2 linked regions of the Homo sapiens genome follow. The protein of the gene in region 2 purifies or fractionates together with the protein of the main gene of each other region. This does not show direct contact. Each region holds a gene or a part of one and is shown on either strand. Other genes may lie near its edges. The genes, in order: IGHMBP2 and NELFCD.

Region 1 (3,811 bases), on a different chromosome or scaffold from region 2:
TCTATTCGTAAGCTCCTACAACCCAAATCCTGGGGCGGGCAAGCGCTTTTTCTTCCCCAAGATCAAATGCCTGTGTGCAGGGCAGGGCTGGTCCAATTTCTGGTCTCCTCTGAGTTAAAAACGTGGTCTCTTTCCAGGACTTAAAATGTCTCTTCCTGTGACTTCAAGGCAAGTGAGGATGTAAGGTGCTTAGTTGCGTGTGTGTATCTGTGTCTCTTTCAAGGAAGATTTCTGAGTGTTTTTTACGGAGTTTATTGAACTGGACTGAATGATAGAAGCACTTCATAAATAGAGTTGAAGAAGTACAAAGTTGGACTGAAGTAAGTGTATCTCCTTTGTTTTTCTTTATAGGTGAAAAACAAAAAGACCCAGGATAAGAGAGAGAAAAGTAATTTTCGAAATGAAATTAAGCTGTTAAGAAAAGAACTGAAGGAGAGGGAAGAAGCAGCTATGCTCGAGAGCCTCACTTCGGCAAACGTGGTCCTTGCAACAAACACAGGTGAGGGGGCGTCTCCATCCTGCCTGTGTGGCCTCGAAGAAGGAGTTGGGGTGTGTTCCCTCTTCTGTTTTCTGGAAGAGTTTGTTTAGAATTGGTATTTCTTTCTTAAAAGTTGGGTAGGGTTCACTAGGGAAGGCCTCCGTACCTGCAGTTTTCTTCATGGAGAGGTTTTGAACTACAAATTCAACTTCTTCAATAGATAAAGGGCTGTTCAGGTTGTTTTTCTTCCATGAGCTTGTAGCTTTCAAGAAGTTTGTCCATTTTATCTAAACGGTTGAATTTAGAGGCATGAAGTGGTTCCTAATATGCCCTTATTCTTCTTTTACTGTCTGCAGGATCTGTCATGATATAACCTGTATTATTCCTGATACTGGTTTGTGTGCTCTTTTTTTTCCTGCTCTTCTGGCTGGAGGGTTTTTTTTTTTAAATTTAGATTTTATATATACATACATATATATTTTAAGAGACAGGGTCTCTGCCAGGCGCAGTGGCTCACACCTGTAATCCCAGCATTTTGGGATGCCAATGCGGGTGGATCACCTGAGGTCAGGAGTTTGAGACCTGCCTAGCCAACATGGTGAAACCCCATCTCTACTAAAAATACAAAAATTAGCCAGGAGTTGTGGTATGCACCTGTAATTCCAGCTACTTGGGAGGCTGAGGTAGGAGAATTGCTTGAATCCTGGAGGTGGAGGTTGCAGTGAACCAAGATCGCGCCACTGCACTCCAGCCTGGGTGACAGAGCAAGACTCCGCCTCAAAAAAATAAAAACCCCAAAACCAAAAAAACAAAGCAAAACAAAAAAAGAGACAGGGTCTCACTATGTTGCCCAGGCTGGTCTCAAACTCCTGGGCTCAAGGGATCCCCCTGCCTCAGCCTCCTAAAGTGCTAGGATTACAGGTGGACCCACCGCGCCCGGCCTGGCTGCAGGTTTCAATTGATCTTCCCAAAGAACCAGCTTTTGCTTTTTCTCTATTGTTTTTCTGTTTCATGTATTTCCACATTGATCTTTATCGTTTTCTGTTTTCTTGGGCTTGTTCTTTTTCTTGCTTCTTAATGTAGAAGCTGAGATCATTGATTTGAGACCTTTCTTTTTTTCTGATACGAGCATTTAGCTCCATAAATGTCTCCCTAAGTACTGCTTTTGTGGCATCCCACAAATTCTGATCTGTTATATTTCATTCATTTCAAAATGCTATCTCATTTGCCTTTTGGTTTTTTAGAAGTGTTATATAGTTTCTAGATAGTTGGGAAATGTCCAGATATCTTTCTGTTGTTGATCTCTCCTCTCCTCTCCCCTCCCCTCCCCGTCCCCGTCCCCGTCCTGTGTGGGATCTCACTGTGTTGCTCCTCTCCTCTCCTCTCCTCTCTTCTTCTCTCCTCTCCTCATCCCTGTCCCCATCCCCATCCCCGTCGCCTTCCCTATCCCCATCCCCATATGGGATCTCACTATGTTGCCCAGGCTGGACTCAAACTCCTGGGCTCAGGTGATTCTCCCAGCTCAGCCTCCTGAGGAGCTGGGGCTCCCTGCATGTGCCACTGCACCTGGCTTACTTTCTGTTATTGGTTTCTAATTTAGTTCCATGTGGTCAGAGGACATACTCTCATGACTTGGATAGTTCATCGAGACTTACTTTATGGTCCAGAATCTGGTCTCTGTCTTTGTGAGTGTTCCATGCACACTTGATAGAACGTGTGTTCTGATTTTATTGAGTGTTCTGTAAGTAGTCAGATCATGATGGTTGATGATGTGGTTCAAGTCTGCTGTATTGAGAGAGGGACGTTGAAATCTCTGAATATAACTGGACATGTCTGTTTTTCCTGCAGTTCTATTGGTTTTTGCTTCATATCTTTGGAAACTCTTTTACTGGGGTCATAAATGTGGGGCTATGTTTTCTTGATTAATTAACAAATTTATCATTATGAAATGACCTTCTTTATCCCTGATAATATTCTTTTTTTGAAATCTACTTTGTCTGACATTAAAATAATCATTTCAGCATTTCAGCTTGCTTTTCTTTTCATTATGGTCAAAAACCTGTAAAATTTACCATCGTAACCCTTTTTAAGTCTGTAGTACAGTAGCATTAATTGTATGCATGTTGTTGTACAGCAGATCTCTAGAACATTTTCATCTTGCAGACCTGAAGCTCTGGATCTGTTGAACAGCAATTCCCTTTTTCCCTGTCCCAGATCCTGGCAGTCACCATTCTCCTGTCTGTTTCTAAGAATTTTATTATTTTACATACCTCAAGTAAGTGGAACCATGCAGGATTTGTCGTCTTGTGACTGGCTTGTTTTATTTAGTGTAATGCCCTCATGGTTCATCCATGTTGTCCAGCTTTCTTTTTATTTTTAAGAGACAGGGTCCCAATCTGTCACCTAGGCTGGAGTACAGTGGTGCGGTCAAAGCTGTACTCCAGCCTTAACCATGAATGTGGGACCTCCAGCAATCCTCCCACATTGACCTCCTGAGTTGCTGGGATTAACAGGCGTGAGCCATTGCACCCAGCCCCCACCTTTCTTTCAACTAGTGTTAGTGTGATCTATCTTTATCCTTTTTCTTAGAACCTATTTGTGTCTTTATGTTTAAAGTGATCTTTTAAAAAATATTTGAGACACGGTCTCACTGTGTTACCCCTAACTGGAGTTGCAGTGGTGCAATCATGGCTCCCTGCAGCCTCAACCTCCTGGGCTGAAGTGATTCTCCCACCTCAGCCTCCTGAGTAGCTGGGACAACAGACACGTGCTATCACACCCTGCTCATTTTTTTGATTTTTAATAGAGACAAGATCTCACTGTGTTGCCCAGGCTGGTCTGGAGTTCCTGGACTCAAGTAGTCCTTCCACCTCTGCCTCCCACAGTGCTAGGATTACAAGTGTAAGCCACTGTGCCTGGCCTGTTTATTTCTTTTTAAAGAGAGAGTCTTGCTCTGTTGCTCAGACTGGAGTGCAGAGGCGTGATCATAACTTGCTGTAGCCTTGCATTCTTTGGCTCAAGTAATCCTCCCACCTCAGCTTCCCGAGTAGCTAGTACTGTAGGCATGAGCCATTACACCTGGCTAATTTTAAAAATGTTCTTTTCTTTTTTCCTTTTAGAGATGGGGTCTTGCAATGTTGCCCAGGCTGGTCTCAAACTCCTGGCCTCAAGTGATCCTCCCACTTTGGCCTAAAGTGAATTTTTTTGTAGATAGCATATAGCTGGGCCTTGCTTTATTATCCAGTTTGACAGTTTCTGCCGTTTGTTCTTTGTTATATTTTCCTCCTCTTCTGCTTTCTTTTAATTAATTAATTGAACATTTCTTTTTTTTTT
Region 2 (3,811 bases):
ATCATTGATAACTACTTTGAAGAGTTCCAAAACCTTACATGTATAAGTGGTCAGAAGCAATTCTTTGGTATTTGATTCACATAGAGACTTTTGACCATTTGCTTTCTAAAGCCACACAGTGAATGGACAGCTTGCCATTGTCTAGTTGCTTTTATTCTCTTTCAGGTGTTGAGCCAGTGCAGGTTCAGGAAACTGTGGAAAATCACTTGAAGAGTTTGCTGATCAAACATTTTGACCCCCGCAAAGCAGATTCTATTTTTACTGAAGAAGGAGAGGTGAGAAATTATTTTTCTTTGCCTAGTACCAGGCCCTAGGGTCTTTTGCAAATTCCCTGTGTACAGTGGAGCGTGGCATATCATGTAAGTAATGGCAGAGTTGAGGACTAAAATCAGAGTGTGAGACAGAAGTTGCATCTAGTCAGAATTGCCCTTTAAACTCTGTACCCAGGGTCGTGACATGCTTGCACGCAAGAGGCACACAGGTGCTGAGATCAAGAGAATGAACAGCAAGTTCCCACCATTTCCCCTCTCAGGCTGACTCCAGGGCACAGCCCTTGGAGTGTTGTGGTGGATTCGTTTGGTTCCTCCAAGAAGCAGCTGCCAAGACAGGGCTAGGCCTGCAGGAGATGATGGGGAAGCGACTATGAGGGAAGATGGGGTAGGGCTGGAGGAGGCTGGGGTAGCTGTGATGCAGTCTGACCCTTGAGGGCAAGAGAAAAGGAATGAGGGTTAGTAGGAAGAATGTTAGGCTGCAGTGCAGTTTCCAGAACGTTCCAGCCATATCAGTGGGGAATCTTTAAGCCACAGGTGCCCATTCTGGGAGCCCACGTCTCCTGGACAGGCCTGCTTTTGAGGCCCTGCTGCATTCCATCTGTGGCTGGGAGCAGCCTCGGGGAGCTGGCCTTGGCACAAACAGGATGGCAGGTTCAGAGCACAGTCCTTGAGGACATCCGTCACATAGGAGAGCTGAGAGAAATGTTTTTCTGGCTACTCCATGTGGTGATGGGCCAGAACACCTGTGCCATTTAAATGGCCTCTTTCTCTTTTGCTAAGGGCATACAAGCTGGGGCAGCATGAGCTCCCTGTGTGTGCAAGGCAGCTCTATGCGGTTCTCGGTGTCTCCTAGGAAGCAACTTTCAGTACCCTCCTGTGTTGAGTCCGATTTTCTAAAAGCTGAGCGGGCATCTAGGGACCTTTCTGTCACTCAGCCGACTGTGTGGCTGTGGCCAGCTCTGGGTCTGCCTCCCCCAGAACTAGATGCCCATGGGGAGTCCATCAGCACCAATCTCCTGTGATCGTTTATACAACAGAATCTCCACTCAAGTAAAAGTGGGGCCTCCTCCTATCTTGCTGTTTGTGTGTGTGTTGGCAGACCCCAGCGTGGCTGGAACAGATGATTGCACATACCACGTGGCGGGACCTTTTTTATAAACTGGCTGAAGCCCATCCAGACTGTTTGATGCTGAACTTCACCGTTAAGGTAGGAAGAGTTCTAGAGTTAAGGAGAAAAGTGTTTATGAATGTTTATTTTTGGTTGTTGGTCTGTTTCCTTTGACAGTTCATATTTGCTTTTTTTCCATAAAGGTCTTTATTGTTTTATTTTCATAAGCCTTACACTGAGAAAGAAAAGTGTAAAATTTGTATCTGTTTTTGGGTCAGTGTTGACTGTGTTTTAGGATTTAGCAGGGATACAAGAATTCTCTTGTGGTTGGAGAGGAGCTTTAGGCGTGCCTGCTTGATCTTCCTCTTGCATATGAAGAAACGATGGAGAGGTGGTCAGCCCAGGGCACACACCTAGGTGATAGCAGGGTGAGGGCGGAGTGAAGGCCTGAGACCCACGACCAGCGCACACTTACTCCACCTCACCATGAACACTGACAAGCCAGCTTCCCGTGGAGGTGCGGTCACTGCATGCCTCCCCTCTGACTTCTTGTTTTGTGTCCTAGCTTATTTCTGACGCAGGGTACCAGGGGGAGATCACCAGTGTGTCCACAGCATGCCAGCAGCTAGAAGTGTTCTCGAGAGTGCTCCGGACCTCTCTAGCTACAATTTTAGATGGAGGAGAAGAAAACCTTGAAAAAAATCTCCCTGAGTTTGCCGTAAGTTCTTTCTTTATGAACCTCAGATTAGAAGGAGGCTGCTTTGGGTCTTGGTTTTCAAGCATGAGATGCTCCTTCCCTGGAGAGAATCTCCATTTCTGAGGGCACCTTCCAGGATGCTCACTCCCGGGCCCGAGCACGGTGGAGGCTTGGCTCTCGTCCGCCCGTCTGTGCTACAGTAGTAAACCCTGCCCCCTCTCTCCCTGCAATCTTGCAGAAGATGGTGTGCCACGGGGAGCACACGTACCTGTTTGCCCAGGCCATGATGTCCGTGCTGGCCCAGGAGGAGCAGGGGGGCTCCGCTGTGCGCAGGATCGCCCAGGAAGTGCAGCGCTTTGCCCAGGAGAAGTGAGAGGCCCTGTTTCTGCTCAGCCCTTCCTTCCTAGTGCTCCCCACAAAACCCTTCCCATGGCCCGTGTTCCACAGCCAAAGCTGCTAGCTCCTTCTGTTCAACGTAGAGGTAAACTTGCTTTTGGCTGGGCGTGGTGGCTCACGCCTGTAATCCCAGCACTTTGGGAGGCCGAGGCGGATGGATCACCTAAGGTCAGGAGTTTGAGACCAGCTTGACCAACATGGAGAAACCCCATCTCTGGTAAACAAAAATACAAAATTAGCCGGGTGTGGCGGCACATGCCTGTAATCCCAGCTACTTGGGAGGCTGAGGCAGGAGAATCGCTTGAACCTGGGAGGTGGAGGTTGTGGTCAGCCAAGATTGCACCATTGCACTCCAGCCTGGGCAACAAGAGCAAAACTCTGTCTCAAAAAAAAAAAAAAAAATTAAAAACTTCCTTTTATCCAGCAGAGCTGGAAAAGTTGGAGTTGTTTTTGGTATACTTGGAGAGCTGGCTTTCTAAAGTGCTGCTTTGAGGACTGTTGTGTAAAGCACTTGATTCGTCTTCCCTTTGCTGGAGTTATGGGCCTGGGCTTTTACACTGGGGTTCTGAAGTAACAAACAAAGTCAGTCCAGAAATAGTTGCTCAGCAATCTCATTGTTACAGTGTCGCAAAATGAGCTCATATTAGCTTTATTTTCTGCTACCAATAGAGTGTTCCTAAGTATTTAAAGTGTGTGACTCCTTTCTTATAGAGCCAGCAAGCTGTATTGGAATCACTTTTCCAGTGTTGTAAATGTTATTTTTGTGGGTCAGTCAGTATACTCGTGAATGACAGAAAAACAGATCCCAACAATGCAAAGTATTATATGTGTAAAAAAGAACAGAAAAAAGAAGCTGCCTTGTTAGTAACGGGGTCTATGGTTTTTCTCATCAAGAGGTCATGACGCCAGTCAGATCACACTAGCCTTGGGCACAGCTGCCTCCTACCCCAGGGCCTGCCAGGCTCTCGGGGCCATGCTGTCCAAAGGAGCCCTGAACCCTGCTGACATCACCGTCCTGTTCAAGATGTTCACAAGCATGGACCCTCCTCCGGTTGAACTTGTAAGTTGCTTCTCAAGAATCCCCAATGTCAGCTGGTAAGGTGACTTTGGAAAGTCTGTGCTTGTCTGATTGTCTGAAGGCTGTGAATGCAAATCCATCATTGTCCTGGTCCTTCCTCAGTCACACTCTCTGCCTGGAGCCTGTTGGGCCCCTGCTGTGTAGGGAACCCTGAGGGGAGGTGGGTGAGCAGTGCCCTCACGCCTGCCATCCCGAACTGGGCATATGCTTCTCCTCAGATCCGCGTTCCAGCCTTCCTGGACCTGTTCATGCAGTCACTC

Evidence for each region.
Region 1: the proteins of NELFCD (region 2) and IGHMBP2 purify together in Homo sapiens (affinity purification with mass spectrometry; one large-scale study listed by BioGRID and IntAct). This does not show direct contact.

The regions. Positions count from the first base shown.
Region 1 is NC_000011.10:68,917,385-68,921,195, forward strand, and holds part of IGHMBP2 (DNA-binding protein SMUBP-2), read left to right. Parts: intron 1-351; coding exon 352-499; intron 500-3,811. UniProt on the Homo sapiens protein: 5' to 3' helicase that unwinds RNA and DNA duplexes in an ATP-dependent reaction. Specific to 5'-phosphorylated single-stranded guanine-rich sequences. May play a role in RNA metabolism, ribosome biogenesis or initiation of translation.
Region 2 is NC_000020.11:58,987,543-58,991,353, forward strand, and holds part of NELFCD (negative elongation factor C/D), read left to right. Parts: intron 1-165; coding exon 166-275; intron 276-1,371; coding exon 1,372-1,479; intron 1,480-1,945; coding exon 1,946-2,098; intron 2,099-2,315; coding exon 2,316-2,446; intron 2,447-3,367; coding exon 3,368-3,533; intron 3,534-3,769; coding exon 3,770-3,811. UniProt on the Homo sapiens protein: Essential component of the NELF complex, a complex that negatively regulates the elongation of transcription by RNA polymerase II.